Linked DNA regions of Homo sapiens: region 2 is linked to region 1. Evidence: fine-mapped expression QTL. Tissue or cell type: whole blood. Region 1 holds a variant in brackets; the other region holds the start of a gene. All regions are shown on one strand. Distances are from middle to middle.

Region 1 (8,100 bases):
TCTTCCTCTGTTTTAATTATTTCCACCATTTTAGTCTCAATGGGAACAGATTTTTAGGGTTTGGGCAGTAGAGTCCGAACTTGAGGCTCTTGGTAGTTGAAACGGGACACTTTTCAGCTTAATCTTTTTATTACTACAATTTTGGATTCCATCCATGTATTTTCCTGTAAATTAGTGAAGTTGCATGAGCCAGCTAGAGAGGCCACTGCATTGAAGAGCCCTTCCCATCATGCCCACATTCGTCATCGCTACAGGGATGGGGTCCTGTGGCCTAGTGGGAAGTGGCCGGGCGTGCAGTGGGGCGCTGGCTCCCTCCTGTCACCTGCTCCGCCGTGGCCTTCGGATCCTCAGTTTTCTCCCTGTTGAATACAGGGCATCTCTGGATGCTGCTCAGGGCGTGCTGAGAGCTCTCCGTAGCGCAGGTGGTAGAGAACTGGGGGTCCCAGGACAGTTCTCTGCGTGTGCACGGTGAGCCCCAGGAAGACGATGCACCTGGCTTTGGCCCCACAGTGAGAGTAGGTTGTGCCCACTCGGCTTGTGGTATAGGGACTCCAGGGATGAGGACACAGGCCCTGCCCGTAAGGAGTTTGTACTCTAGTTGAGAAGGCACGATAGAGAGGCGTCGGGAATGACATAAGCAAGCCCCGGACCTGAGCAGCGATGGGAGGGTGTCTTGCAGTCCGTTGTCATCACTATTTACACAGGAGCAGCCACTGTGCGCCAGAATGTTCTGGGTGCCTGACCCCCATGGGTGGACACAACAAAGGCCCCTGTGTTTATGAGGGGGACAGAGTAACAGTGCATACATGAATTCTCCAAACTGTGTTTGCGAGGGGAACAGAATAACAATACATGCGTGAATTCTCCAAACTGTGTTTACCAGGGGAACAGAGTAACAATACATACATGAATTCTCCAAACTGTGTTTGTGAGGGGGACAGAGTAACAATACATAACTTGAATTCTCCAAACTGTGTTTATGAGGGGGACAGAGTAACAAAAATACATACTTCAATTCTCCAAACCGTGTTTACCAGGGGAACAGAGTAACAATACATACATGAATTCTCCAAACTGTGTTTGCGAGGGGAACAGTAACAATACACACCTGAATTTTCGAAACTGTGTTTGTGAGGGGGACAGAGTAACAATACACACATGAATTCTCCAAATGCCGGAAGGTGGTCAGTGCTCTGACAAAACAAGTGGGAGGAGGGTGGGAGCCCAGGAGGGCGGGAGGGCCAGGTGGTTATCCAGGGGGATGGTGAAGCCAGGACATGAAGGAAGGGAAGGCGGTGGCCGAGCAGGCCCGAGTAGGCAGAGGACCAGCGAGTTCTGATCCAATTGTTGAGGTCCCTGATCTCACCCTCTGGGCATTCAGGACCTTGGGTGCTGCTGTGAGCTCAGGGCAGAGGGAAGTTGGGGCGTGGAAGGTCTGGGAATCTTGTGAGAGCCCCAAGTGTGCACCTGGTGTGGGCCGACCGAGTCAGAGGGATCGAGAAGTTAAGTAAATGGAAAGAGTGTGTCATGACACCTTAGTGAGCATTTATATCTCGTGGGGAGCCCCGCCTGTGGGCCAGCTAAGCACCTTCTGTGCAGTGGGCCTTTCCAGACCCTTGCAGGAAGACGGGGCCGGCCTGGCGGGCTGGGGTGCCTGGGTGAGGCCTCTTCAGCGGGCCCCGGCCCTGCAGCCAGGCAGCTCCTGGTGGCTGTCCCGAACAGGCCTCACCGCTTCTCCTTGGATGTGTCCTTCCAGGTCACCTTTTCTATAAATTTGGCATCACAGAATCCGACTGGTACCGAATCAAGCAGAGCATCGACTCCAAGTGCCGCACGGCGTGGCGGCGCAAGCAGCGGGGCCAGAGCCTGGCGGTCAAGAGCTTCTCGCGGAGAACGCCCAACTCGTCCTCCTACTGCCCTTCAGGTAGGCCTCGTGCTGCAGGAGAGGCCGCCCTCCCCCGCTCGGGGCAGCTGGCCTGGTGGCACCCTCAGGGGCAGCCAGTGCGTGGCCAGCGGCTCCACCAGTGGCCGGGAGCCGAGGCCAGAGGCTTGCGCGGTGCGCACGGAGCAGTGGAGCCGCAGGACCTGTGCCTGGCCCCGTGCGCCCTTCACACGGACAGCCTCGGGCCTGCTCCAGGCTCCTCCGTGAGGGACAGAGGGCCTGTTGGGCCTCCCGGAAGTCTTCTGGATGGGGGCAAGGAGGCCGAGGCCTTTGCGTGGGGCTGCCGGCCGTTGTATTCTCACGATTTGCCGGGTGACTCCGGGTGAAGAAGTGGGGTGGATTCTGAATTATGCTTTATTTTTGCTTTGAGTTCATGGCCTTAGTTGGATTTATCCACAAGATAATGGAAACAGTTCTCTTTGAGTTGCCTCTCAGGCATCGCTGGGGGGATTGTTCTCCTTGGAGAATTTTCACTAGGAATGACAATGTGACTTGATACTGCCTTTCACCCAAGACATCTCAAAATATTTTAGTAAGTATTTGAATGAAAACTATTCTCTTAAAGCTCCCCACAGTAGCTGCATTGGCAGCGACTCTTGGAACTTGAGCTGTGACTGGGGCTGGGGTCAGGATGCGAGGGCAGCCGTGGGCAGGGCCAGCTCTCCTATTCAGTGGAGTCTTTGTTGGCGGGAACCCTTTGTTCTGGAAGTCCTGGGAGTTGCAGACCAGATCACCTGGAGTTCTCCCGGGGCCTGGTTCTTTCTGAACCGGACTTCAGGAAGTGGTTTTCTCGGGCTGTTTTGGTAGTTATCAGATACTCGGCCTCAGCTGCTGCCCAGGGGCTTGAGGATGGGAGGTGGCTGCCTGTAGTGGGCCACACAAGTTGTGTCCCTAAAGCAGCGCTTTATTGAGTGACCTGTGTTGAAGAAGCTCTTCTATTCTAGGCCTTTCTACTACAATGAGGAATTCTGCCTTGGGACTTGAGAGAGGTAGCAGTCCTGGGGTGTGGGTTAAGGGCATTCACTGAAATACCATGTAGCAGCGTAACCTGTGGCTATTGAAATGCGGCTGTAGGAATATTGCGCATGACTTGAATTCTGCTCTTGAATATTCATAGCTAGGCAGCAGAGAGCGATGTGAGGACTATACTTATGGCATGATACCATTTTTATTGCAAATATATAGGTATATGTGGAAGTTGATTAAAAATTTATGTGTGATCATTTTTACAGTGCCTGTCTCTAGGTAGTAGGATAATTTTTATTTTTCCCTTTGTCTTTCATTGTAGTTTCTCAGTTATTTCCAATAAGCACTGCATTAGTTTTATAGTTGTAAAAAATGTTTAAAAGTCAGGGAGCCCAGGCGTGGTGGCTCATGCCTGTAATCCCAGCACTTTGGGAGGCTGAGGCAAACTGATCACCTGAGGTCAGCAGTTTGAGACCAGCCTGGACAACATGGTGAAACCCCGTCTCTACTAAAAATACAAAAATTAGCCAGGTGTGGTGGCGCATGCCTCTAATCCCAGCTACTTGGGAGGTTGAGGCAGGAGAATTGCTTGAATCCAGGAGGCAGAGGTTGCAGTGAGCTGAGACTATGCCACCACACTGTAGCCTGGGTGACAGAGCGAGACTGTATCTCAAAAAAAAAAAAAAAAAAAAAAGCCGGGTGCTGTGGCTCACGCATGTAATCCCAGCACTTTGGGAGGCCAAGGCGGGCAGATCATGAGGTCAGGAGATCGAGACCATCCTGGCTAACACGGTGAAACCCCGTCTCTACTAAAAGTGTCAAAAAAATTAGCCGGGCGTGGTGGCTGGCGCCTGTAGTCCCAGCTACTCGGGAGGCTGAGGCAGGAGAATGGCGTGAACCTGGGAGGCGGAGCTTGCAGTGAGCCGAGATCACACCACTGCACTCCAGCCTGGGCTACAGAGCAAGACTCCGTCTCAAAAAAAAAAAAAAAAAGTCAAGGAGAGGAGGTTTCTGTCAGGCACACTAGCAGGAACCAGATTGAATTCTCTTGCCATTGAAATCTGGACAAAATTTGTGTCTGTGAATCGGCTGTCCTAAGACGTTAGACAAGCAACAGCACAGGACCGTGATCCTGAGAGAAGGAACATGAGAGGAGGGGACAGGGAGATACCGGGCAGAGACACCTGCATCACTGCATGGAGGAGATGGGTTGGAGTTGAGAGAGGCTGAGGCAGCAGAAAGTTGTGGAATCAAGTTCCTAAGAGCAGAGGGTTACACGGGGGCCTTCTTGGGTGTTTGGGGGACTCCAAGGCAGGCATGAGCTCAATGGCTCCTAAGCTCACCCCAGGCTGGGTGGTGGTTGGATTCCCACTGGCCGGAGTCCTCAGTGATCAGTCGCTGCACTAGCAGGCCATGCCTACTGGCAGGCTAAACTATCCCTAGAATAAAGGCAGAGCTTAAGACAGCCTGAGAAAGATCACATTGAACCACAAGTAACAACACTTTTAAAAGAAAGACAACAAAACCTAGACACCCAACAAAGTAAAATTCACAATCTCCAGTATCTAGTCCAGAGTAGCAGGAAGCAGGAGATTGTGACCTATGATCAGAAAATCAGCAAATAGGAAGGGACCCTGTCTGGAATTAACTGACCAGGACATTGAAATCTATTAAAATTACATTCAAGAATTTAAAGGA[A/G]AAAAGGAACATAGCAAGGAGAGAAATAGAAGACATAAAAAAGAACCGTATGGAACTCCTAGACTCGAAGAGTGAGGAGAGTTGTTGCCAGGCTTGCCTTCCATGTGTTTCGGGTACGTGCATTTGGTAAGGTTAGCGGTCTGCTTCATCCAATGGGGAATGAAAACCCAAGTTAAATGACTTGCCAGGACCTTAGTGAGCAAGAAGCTGCTGTTATATAACCTGACGACTGCCAGATATGTTGGCCTGCGTCATTAGGATACCAGAATCTTGAAAGAGTACATTTAATGAGCTGAAATGTCACAGCTGGAAATGTAGACTCAGAGCATTTGCACAGGAGTAGACGGTGGTGCAACAGCGTGTGAAGCCGAGTGTTTTGCTGGCTGCGCTGGTAGGCAGGAGCTTCCTCGGAGCCCTTGTGGTTGCAAGGTGCACTCTGGAGCACACCCATTCTTTGCTTGTCTGCCCTGTGGCCCCAGTGGAGTGTTTTGGAGCTGCTGGGAGAAGCTGTCCAGGGACAGACTGTCATGGTGGCAGTGGGCTGGAAACCGTTGTCTTTGGGGAAACGGTTAGAAATGGAGATTTCACAAGGTTTGATAATGCTTAGATGCCTGGAGAAGTAGCGCATAAGTAAAGAATTAGGCTGGTTTTGTAGGTGCTAAGAGGGTCAGTGGAGGAACAGCAGCTCCGCGGAGGTGGGCTTCAGCCCAGCTGGGATTTTGTCATTTTCTTCCTGGGGTGCACAAGGCTTGCTCGAGGACCTGTGGTGGTGAGTGCTCCGTAACTGCTCAGGCAGACAGGAAGCCGCCGTGGAGCACGCAGCACTGCCTGGCGGTGGTTGCTTTGGGACATGACCCATCACTGGAGGTGCTCAGGTGGAGTCAGGGTCTTTGGCTGGAGCCGAGCTCTCCACATGCAGCATGCAGGTGGGCTTGTTGAATCTCCTTTGAATCTCATGAATTTCAGATTCTGATTTAGTGTAGCTAGGCAATTTCTAGCATATTGCAAGTATCAACATTCTGTTAATGTGACTGGGCACAGTGGCTTACACCTATAATCCCAGCATTTTGGGAGGCTGAGGCAGGCGGATCATTTGAGGTCAGGAGTTCAAAACCAGCCTGGCCAACCTGGTGAAATCCCTTCTCTACAAAAAAATACAAAAAAAAATTAGCCCAGCATGATGGTGGGTGCCTGTAATCCCAGCTACTTGGAAGGCTGAGGCAGGAGAATCGCTTGAACTTGGGAGGCGGAAGTTGCAGTGAGCCAAGGTCATACCACTACACTCCAGCCTGGGTGACAGAGCAAGACTCTCTCTCAAAAAAAAAAAAAAAGAAACCCAACATTTTATTGTTACTTTAAAAAATGTATTCAGTGGAATCTAGGTACTATGGCAATTTAATACCTACCATTAGCTATTGGTAAAAAATACATGGAAAGCTTTTCTCTCCCCTCCCCCGCTCTTGCCCTCCCCTCTCTTGCCCCTCCCCGTCCCTTCCCCCGCTCGCTCTGTTGCCTGGAGCTGAGTGCCATGGTGCCATCTCAGCTCACTGTAACCACCTACTCCCAGGTTCAAGTGGTTCTCCTACTTCAGCCTCCCAAGTAGTTGGGACTACAGACGCGTGCCACCACACCTGGCTAATTTTTGTATTTTTAGTAGAGACGGGGTTCACCATGTTGGTCAGGCTGGTCTCGAACTCCTGACCTGAAGTGATCTTGCCCGCCTTGGCCTCCCAAAGTGCTGGGATTACAGGCGTGAGCCACCGCGCCTGGCCCGCTTCTCTTTAATAATCAATAATTTTATGTCTTTCATTTTTCTCCTTTCATTCATATCAACATTCTACTTCTCTCACAGAATTTCATCTTACTGCTTCCCTCCCCTGTACCCCCGAGATGGAGTCTCGCTCTGTTGCCCAGGCTGGAGTGTAGTGGTGCCATTTCGACTCATTACAACCTCCGCCTCCCAGGTTCAAGTGATTCTCCTGCCTCAGCCTCCTGAGTGCCTGGGATTACAGACCCCCACCACCACGCCTGTCTAATTTTTGTATTTTTAGTAGAGATGGGGTTTCACCATGTTGGCCAGGCTGGTCTTGAACTCGTGACCTCAGGTGATCTACCTGCCTTGGCCTCACAGAGTGCTGGGATTACAGGTGTGAGCCACCGTGTCCGGACTACATTTTTATGCTTAAAAGCTTTTTAAAATTAGTCATTATAATTCTCTGCAACAAAACTACGTGTATACATTGAAAATTAAAAAGTTTTTCTGCGCTCTTAATATTCTGAGAGTTTAAGAAAATTATGATTGAGACATCATTACAGTGAAAATTAATACACAGTACATCAAAGCAAATGTATCTCATTTTGATTAAACACAGCAAGTAAAATTTGTTGGAAATGTATCTTTAAGTGTGCGGATGAGACTTTTGCTCTATTAGTTTAATTACCCATGGACAAATATTGCCAGCCTGAAACAGCTTTTAATGTCCACTTTAAGAACTTCATTCATTTAAATAAGTTGGGGACTAGAAGGGGTTTTGTCATAGCAGCATCACGCCACTCTCAGGCCCTTTTGCATTCCATGTCGGAAGCCTCAGTTCCTAAGACTCACTGGTAGTGATCTCTGCAGAAGAGTGGAGATGCAGTGAGTCGAGGAAAAATGAAGCATTTCCTCTTCTCTGCTGTGGGAGTCGACAGTGGGGGACGGGGGTGCACACATGCCACACCAGGCAATGCCTAAGAAACTTCTCGTTCACCCCGTTCACACCTGTTGCCCCCACAGAGCCGATGATGAGCACCCCACCTCCTGCCAGCGAGCTCCCGCAGCCACAGCCGCAGCCGCAGGCCCTGCACTACGCGCTGGCCAACGCACAGCAGGTGCAGATCCACCAGATCGGAGAAGACGGACAGGTGCAAGTAGTACGTACCCTCTCCACCTCACACCTTGGGAAAGGGGGCTGCGGGGTGGGCCACGGCAGGGCCATGGCGGCTTCCACCGGTTCCGCTGTGTTTTGGGAGCACAGTGATAGCTTGGGAGGAGGCACAAGGTCCCCATTTAAAGTAGAGGTCATCGTGGCCATGAGCTCTTAACATTTCACAGGTGGGGGCGGCTGCTGCAGAGCCTAGGGATTGAAGCACATGGTGGGGTGGGGCATTCAGTCAGCTCACCTCAGTCCTGCCAGCAGGCAGGCGGGCAGTCAGCTCCAAGGGTCAGGCCGTGCGGTGGTCCCTGCCCCAGCTCGTGCTCCTGGGAAACATCGGAAATATTTCTCAGTTCAGAAGTGCAGGCGCTCTCTTACTGAGGGAAAGAGTAATTTCCTTCTAGGATCAGTGGCAAAAGCTTGAGGTCATTGTTCCCATGCAGCGTGTCCCTTGGAGTTACTCAGCACACCCAGGTTGGGCGGGCACTGTCCCAGCAGCAAGTCAATGTCCTGCCTTGCCCGTGCGGAGTTCTCTATTGGGGTTTTGTGACCCAAGCTGTGGTCAGCCTGATGCGCCTA
Region 2 (8,100 bases), 350 kb after region 1:
GGAGGGGTGGACGTGGCCCTCCTTTTCAGCTCTCTGATGGCTTTGAGGGCTATGAAGAGGGGGAAGAGGCGCTGCCAGGGCCAGGCCAGGGGAGGGACGGGAATCAGGAGGCCAAGCCTGGAGCAAAGCTGCCCCCAGGAGGGTGCTGATACCAGGATTCTCACCTCCCGCCATTGACACCTGGGGCAGGATGATTCCTGTGCACTGGGGAGGCGTGGCAGCAGCCCCTGCCCCCCAGCTAGATGCCAGAGGTAGCTCCCAGTTGTAACAGTCCAAAGTGACTCCTGATGCTGCCACTGGGTTAGTCAAAGCAGGTGGGTGTGGAACATGGGGACAAGGCAAGGGGTGGACGGTGGCTCTGGGACAGGGGAGGTGTGCCGCGGGCCTTGGCCAGGTTGCTAGTCCTCCCTGTGAAAGGGAAGAGGCAGTCCCACCTCGCGGGGTTGTCAGAGTCCTTCACACAGTGACTGGCCCGGAGTGGGTACAGGGTCATCCCCTGTTGTCACCATGCTTGTGAGCATGGACTCTGAGTGAGGGCTTCTGTCATTTCTCACGCCCAGGCGGCATTCAGGTGCCCCAGGGCTAGGAAAAGAACTTGTGTGCATGCATACACATGCAGTCACACACACACATACTCACACACAGACACGCACTCACACACACAAATGCACTCACAGACATGCACTCATACACAAACACACACACAGACACACACTCACACACAAATGCACTCACAGACATGCACTCACACACAAATGCACTCACACACAGACATGCACTCACACACAAATGCACTCACAGACATGCACTCACACACAAATGCACTCACACACGTGCACTCACACACCCAGACATGCACACACACACACGCACTAAAACACAGACATGCACTCACACATGCACTCACACATGCGCTCACACACATGCGCTCACACACAGACATGCACTCACACGCACTCACAGACACGCCCTCACACAGACATGCACTCACACAGATGCATTCACACATACACAGTCACACACAGACATGCACACACACATGCACTCACACATACGTGCACACACACATGCACTCACACAGACATGCACACACACGCACTAACACACACGCACTAACACAGACATGCACTCACACACAGACGCCCTCACACAGACATGCACTCACACACATGCACTCACACACGCACACACCCAGACATGCGCTCACACACATGCACTCATACACACACAGACACGCCCTCACACAAGACATGCATTCACACACATGCACTCACACTCAGACATGCACTCATACACACACAGACATGCACTCACACACAGACATGCACTCACAGACGTCCTCACACACATGCACTCACACACATGCACTCACACATGCACACACACCCAGACACACACACACACGCACTCACACAGACATGCACTCACATGCACTCACACACAGTCATGCCCTCACCCAGACATGCACTCACACACACTCACAGACATGCACTCACACAGACACGCACTCACACACAGACACGCCCTCACACACAGACATGCACTCACACATATGCACTCACACAGACATGCACTCACACACATGCGCTCACAGACATGCACTCACACACATGCACTCACACAGACACGCTCTCACACACAGGCATGCACTCACACACGCACTCACACACCCGGACATGCACTCGCACACACGCACACACAGACATGCACTCACACACACACTCACACACAGACACGCCCTCACACACAGACATGCACTCACACACATGCATTCACAGACACACACACAGACATGCACTCACACACGCACTCACAGACATGCACTCACACGCACTCACACAGACATGCACTCACACACACGCACTCACACACATGCACTCATGCACTCACACACAGAGACATGCACTCGCACACAGACACACACTTATACACACATGCACTCACACACAGAGACATGCATTCACACACACGCACTCACACACAGACATGCACTCTCTCACACACACACACGGGTTTGGAAATTGAAGTCTTTCTTAGAAACAAGAACAGACCCAGTAGAAACGAGAAGGAAGGAAACGCCCTCTGGGGTCTTTGTCCACAGCCAGGGGACCCCTGGCCCTTGAAACTTTAGGAAACCCGCTTGATTGAAATCCTGATTAACTCGAGAGGGTTTCTTAGTTCTTCCCCATTTTCCATGGAAAGGGAGATCCCAGGACCTGGAGGCCCCAGATGATGCCATGGAAATGTGAGCCAAGCCTCGAGCCTCTGGGGCCTTTCAGCCCCTGCCCCTTTTTCAATTCACGTTTTCGCGTCCACTGGCAGGAATGCCATGTGCTGCGATGCCAGCACAGAAACCCCACTGCCATGTGCAGTTCCTTTTAGTTTATTCTATACCGTTCGCAGAGTCCCAAAACAGCTTCAGGAGGCAGACCAGATTGGGGGAGGGGCAGGCCCACTCATTGGCTCCACCAGAAGGCCCGTGGTTAGGCCACACCTTGCTTTACATAATAAAGGTGTCCTTAAAAGGGTGTGCAACTTGAACTTGCGTAAGTAAAGCGTGCTTGACCTGCTCCCGGGGGACCTTTGTCTGAAGGACTAATTCTGAAAGCATTCCTTTCTGCGAAGTCCCCCCACTGCCACCCTATTTCTTAGAAGTCCACCAAGTTCATGACTTGGGATCCTCTGAAGTGGGGGAGGGCGATCCGTCCCCAGATGCTGCCCGTAACGCTGCACCCCTGCCCTTGGAGGAGGCCCACACGCCCCTGTCTGGGACAGCCGGGGACGGGCACGTACTGGGCCAGGGGGCTCTGCCTGGAGCCATCTCCGCCGTGTGGCCTTGGGCAGGTTCCTTGTCTTCTTCAGGCCTTGGTTTCCTTGGCTGTGAATGGAGATGTTGGACAAATGACCGGTAAGGGCCTCTCCCTCTCTAGGGGCCTGGATGGCTCCTAGCGCCCCACCAGCAATGCTGCCGAACTCACGGGCCAGTCTGGGGCAGTCCCAGGGCTGGACAAGGGACCCAGAGTGGAGACACGAAGGTCTGGGGGCAATGTTAGCTCCCACCTATGAGAAAGCGTGCCATGGGGACCTCCTTATGGTGCCTTCGAGGGCCAACTTGAGCCACTCAAACCGAACTTGCCCAGGCAGGTGCCAGGTGCCAGTCGGGACATCCCCCACCTCCTAGACAGAAGCACAGGGACAAGCGTGTCATGTGTGGGCACCTGGGGAGCTGGAGCGCAGGCCAGGGATGGAGATAGAGCAGCCACTGGAAGCCACATGGGTAGCATTATGGCAGACGTTTTTTAAGTTGTGCTGAATGCAGCGTTTCCGTCTCAGCAGCAAGGCCTGCCATTCTGGGGTGGGCTGGCTGGGGAGTGTGAAGAGGGGGTTCAGGGAGCAATGCCTCAGGGCCCCCCATCGCCGGGGTGGGTCCCATGAAACAAACACCTAGGAAAAGCGGCGCTAAAAATAGCTGGGGGGAGGGTGCGGGGGCGGCGGAGTCTGTAACCTAAGCCGCCCCAGCCTCCGGGGGGCAGACCCCGCGGCCGCCGGCCGGCGTCCGGCCTTCCCAGCACCCGGCCCAGGGCTGGAGCTGGCTGCAGGGCTGGCCCGCGGCGACCTGGGCAGGGTGGCGGCTGCTCCCTCTCCTCCCACCCCGCCCCGAGGCGCAGCGCGCGGCAGAGCGGCTCGGTGCCCGGCGGGCGGGCGGCCCGGGCGGGCCTGCGGTCGGGATGAGGACGGCGCCTCCGCTGCAGAGCGCTGGGGCGGCGCGGGCCGGGAGCTCGTTGGCGGCGGCCGGCGTGGCGGGCGGAGCGGGCCTCGGAGCGGAGGTGAGTGCGGATGCGCCGCCTGGGCGCGCGCGGTGCCTGGGGACCCCGGGCTGGAACGCGGGGCGGGGGTGTCACCGGGCTGCGCGGGGGTCTCCGGCCCGGCTCCCGCTCCTGCGCCCTCGGGGGCCGCTCCCCGGCGGGGCCGGACCCTCCCAGCGCTCGCGGCGCCCGGCCCGGCTCCCCCGACCTCCTCCTCCCGGGCCCGGACGTGCGGGGCAGCGAGCGCCGGGGCCCGGCGGGGGCCGCAGCCTTGCCCGGAGCGGAGCGTTGGCAGCGCGGGGTCCGGCTCCGTGGGCAGTTTGGGAAGCGCCCGGGCAACGTACTGGCGAGGGCCGCGGAGCGAGGGGCTCGGGGAGCGGGACCTCCGGGCGGGGCTGCGGGGAGCGGGGCCCGGGCCGCCCCATTCATCGCGGATCGGAGCCGGGGGTGCCCCAGCCGTGCCGCCGCCTCCTCCGGGCCGCCCGCCCGGGCGTGCTGGCCCCGCGGCGCTCCGAGCGCGGCATAGGCTTGCGAGTCGGCGGTGTCAGCGCCCCGGACGGGGGTGGGAGCTTTGGAGCCCACCCTGGGGGAGACCACGCCGCACCCCCGCCCAGCCCCGCGCACCCCCAGAGGCTTTTGCAGAGCCGGGAAGTTGGCTGGACGTCTAGACCCGTGGGGACGCGGCGCCCCGCGTGGCGGCGGCCGGAAGGGAAGGCCAATGGGGCTCGGGGGACTCCCGCGGCCACCCAGTCCTTGTCCCTGCACCCTGGGCCGAGGGCAGAGGGACAGGTCCCCGGCGGGGGCGGGGGGGCAGCTCAGCTGCCAAGTCCGCTCCTGCAGCGGAGGCGGTTAACTGCTTCATCCCCAGCCGTGAGCCATGCTGGGCATAGGGAGTGTGCCACGTGTTATCACGTTTAATCCTTACGTCCTGAGATCCGTGTTAACCCAAGTCTTAGATGCAGAAACTGATGGTCAGAGTGGGCTGATGCTGGGAAGTGAGCACAGCACGCGGTAGTGTCGTGGACAGCCCCTGCCCATTCTGCCAAGAGCAAGTCTAGTTCCCTTCTGCCGGTCGGGTGGACAAAGGTGTCTTGAGGCCCTCTCAGTGCCCAGCCTGTCCTAGGTGCCCCCAGCACAGCCCACAGCCCTGCATTCCTGAAAATAAACAAAATAAACAGGTAAATGCCTGGACAGCGTCGGGCGTGAGGGCTGAGCAGGGAGCTCGGAAGCTGGGGCGGAGCTGCAGTTTTAGGAAGGGCAGCCAGGCACCCTCGGAGGAGGTGGCCTGGGAGACGTGTCTTCCATGCCATGCGCCTGGCAGGTCCCAGACCACAGGACAGAGCTCACCGGGAGGTGATCATTCTGCCCTGCAAATAGAAAAGAGGAAGAGGATATCTGAGGCAAAAAGGAAGGCCAGGGCCTTCTCAAAGGGAACCCAGGGGCCCCGCAGAGTCTCAGCTTGGGAGGCACAGGTGAAGGGTGTGTGGCTGTAATGCCCCGAGGCTGGCAGCTCTGGGCAGTGTGCAAACCAGGAAGTCCCAGGATTTCAGGGTCAAGGGAAATTTTGGGGTCATGAACTTCAACCCCCTCATCAGCGCTTCAGTCTCCACCAGACCCTGCCTCCAGGTTACTGACTCTGCTTGGATACCTCCAGTGACCGGGAACTCACTCCCCATCACAGCAGCCTGTTCCAGCCATTCCTGCAGTCCTACCAGCTGGAATGCACTGGTCCATCATCCTGAGGCAGCAGGCAGCACATCTGCTCAGCTGTTACACATGGCTGCCTTTGGATAATTTTAATAGGGATGGTCTCCCCCTGTATGCCTAATCTCTTCAGGTCATTTCTGACTTGACATTCCTGGTCAGGCCCCATCCTGCCACCTTCCCCTGGGAGAAATTCAGTGGGTTTCTGCCCTTTCCTCGTGTTTGCTGAACGGAAGTAAACCTGAACACCAGGGTGGCCTGGAAGCAGAGATGCCCTCCCCTCCTTTCTCCTGGAGTCTTGTCACCACCGATAGTGCCCTAGATATCAGGCCATGGTGGACTCATCTGGAGCCCAGATGGTTTCAAGACAAGCCCCCTACCCTCCCTTCCGGTTCTGACTCCTACTAATAATTCAGTTACCAGCCGGGGATGGTGGCTGTGTAATCCCTGCAATTTGGGAGGCTGAGACAGGTGGATCACTTGAGCCCAGGAGTTTGAGGCCAGCCTGGGCAACATAGTGAGACCCCATCTCTACTAAAAAAAAAATTGAAGTAAGTTAGCCAGGCATGGTAGTGTGCACCTGTACTCTCAGCTACTAGGGAGGCTGAGGAGAAAGGATTGCTTAAACCCAGGAGTTCAAGGCTGCAGTTAATGATGATCGTGCCACCGCATTCCAGCCTGCGTGATAGAGTGAGACTCTGTCTCAAAAAAAAAAAAAAAAAATTCTGTTACCCTGCCTGCCTCCTTGTCCAAACATAGGGCTGATGATGTGGGGAATGCCTGTGTAGTAGTTAAGAGTCCAGGCTCTGGGAACAGCTGCTAGGGGCTGTGTGGCCTTGGGTGAGTGACCAAACCCCTCTGGGACTTTATTTCTCATCAGAAAAATGGGGAGCCCTCACAGGGGTCAGTGGGACGGGCTGGTGTGTGGAGCACCCTGGCACAGGCCTGGCACACTGCAAGTACTTGGTAGGTACCAGCTGCTGTGGTTGCAGCCCATGGGTTTCAGGAGACTCCGTGGGACCTGTGGAGAGGGTTCTGAGGACAAGAAAGACCTGAGTGGTGCAAGGTGCCAGCTAAAAGCCCAGATGGAGGCCGCCATAGGGAGCAGGGATGCCGGTGAGGCACAAGCGGCCCGGTCCCGTGGACTCTGCCTTCCCCATCTTCTTCCCAGCGCCCTCCCCATCTTCCCAGCGCCTTCCCCATTTTCCCTCCTGGCCAGCCAGCCCACCCTTGCTTTGGTTCATTCTAGACCTGCAGGGTGGGGAGGAGACCTGGGAGAGTGTGACCAGCCCGTCCTCCTGCTCACTGTGGGCGGTGGCCATGCTCGGGTCCTGCATTCCAGGCCACAGTCCAGCCCTGTTCTGACTCCCTGATAAGGGTCCTCATGGGTTCATCTCAGGATGTGTGTTCTCTCTTCCCGCCTCCTGCCCGGGACCCCACCGTCCCGCCCCATCTCCACCGGCGACTGCCTGCCCTTCTCCCCTAGACATCACCCCCACCCTCGTGGGAACACCCCTCCTCTCCCTGCTGCCCTCACGCATCCTGCATCCCACCTCCCATCACTGGTGTCCCATCTACCCTGCAAGGCCATCCCCCTTGACGAAGGGGCCCTATTCAGGCCGGATCCCTTCTCCCCGGGCTCAGCAGGCGCTGGCCGGTGACTCGGAGGGTCCCGTCACATCCAGGGCCCTCTAGTGATTCCTTTCCAGACACAGCTCCATCCACCTACCTCGAGAGACCAGCCGCTTCCAGGTCAAGCCTGTCTCCAAGTGGCTTTAAGGTCCCAGGCCTCTCAACTGAACCCCATGAGCCAGCCTCGTTCTCTGATGGAGCTGACCTGCTACATGCTGGGGGCTGGACAGAGCGTGGTGGAAGGCAGTGGGTGGTTCCGTGAGGATGGGGCTCTGTGAAGTAGCCTTGAGGTGGCTCAGGGCCTGTTTCTTTGGCCACTCCCTCCCCGTGCTCATCATTTGCCAGTGGTCATGGTGGGGGTGGCAGATGCTGTCCTCAGGGACTGGCTGCAATCGTATACTTCAGAGCTAAGGACTTCCATTTCCCTGGGTAGAAGGAAAGATGGGCCAGTACAGTTGGGCAGGTTGTTCACTGCACGTCGGCACCCAGTCTATACTCTGCTTGTCGGGCCTCCCCAACCTCCAAGACTGTGTCCACCCAGGGGAGCGCCTTGTGCTAGACACCCAGAGACCCGCGGCAGCCCTGGGTCAGGTGCGGACGCCGTCCGCACCCCTGAGGACCTTCCATTGCAACCCCATCCTGCGTGCCTGCGGAAGCTGCCCTCAGTGGCCGGAGGGTTGCGGCCTTGGCCCTCCTCAGGTGCTATCGGCCGTCCAGCCCCCTCATTCCTGTGAGTCCACGTCACTCCCGGTTCTCCCCCCTTGGTCTGGGTTCACCAGGCTGGCTTCAGGGCGGGGTGGGAGCGGCGGGCAGGACCCACCCCCGGGTGCCGGGGGACTCGGGCCGCGGTCAGCACAGCCTCCAGATGTTCTTCAAAGCATGCCCCACCCCCTTGGCTGCTTGCGGTTGCTGGTCCCGAGTCCGGAGGACCAGAAAGTGAGACCAGCGACAACGCTGG

The links. PIP is the estimated chance that this variant, and not a neighbour inherited with it, causes the effect.
Region 2: ZNF469 starts here. The variant in region 1 is fine-mapped to the expression of ZNF469 in whole blood (INTERVAL, PIP 0.98).

What each region holds. Positions count from the first base shown.
Region 1 is chr16:88,025,727-88,033,826 of GRCh38, forward strand. BANP (BTG3 associated nuclear protein) reads left to right here. Exons shown (of 14, transcript NM_001386991.1): 8 at 1,757-1,924; 9 at 7,383-7,519. Among named protein-coding and RNA genes, the nearest start is that of BANP, 78 kb to the left of the region's middle. RefSeq lists enhancers at 1,414-1,984, 4,905-5,406. The variant A/G (reference allele first, on the strand shown) is at 4,607.
Region 2 is chr16:88,379,428-88,387,527 of GRCh38, forward strand. It overlaps ZNF469 (zinc finger protein 469), which reads left to right and starts at 3,532. Exons shown (of 3, transcript NM_001367624.2): 1 at 3,532-3,827. RefSeq lists enhancers at 1,259-1,803, 2,348-2,891.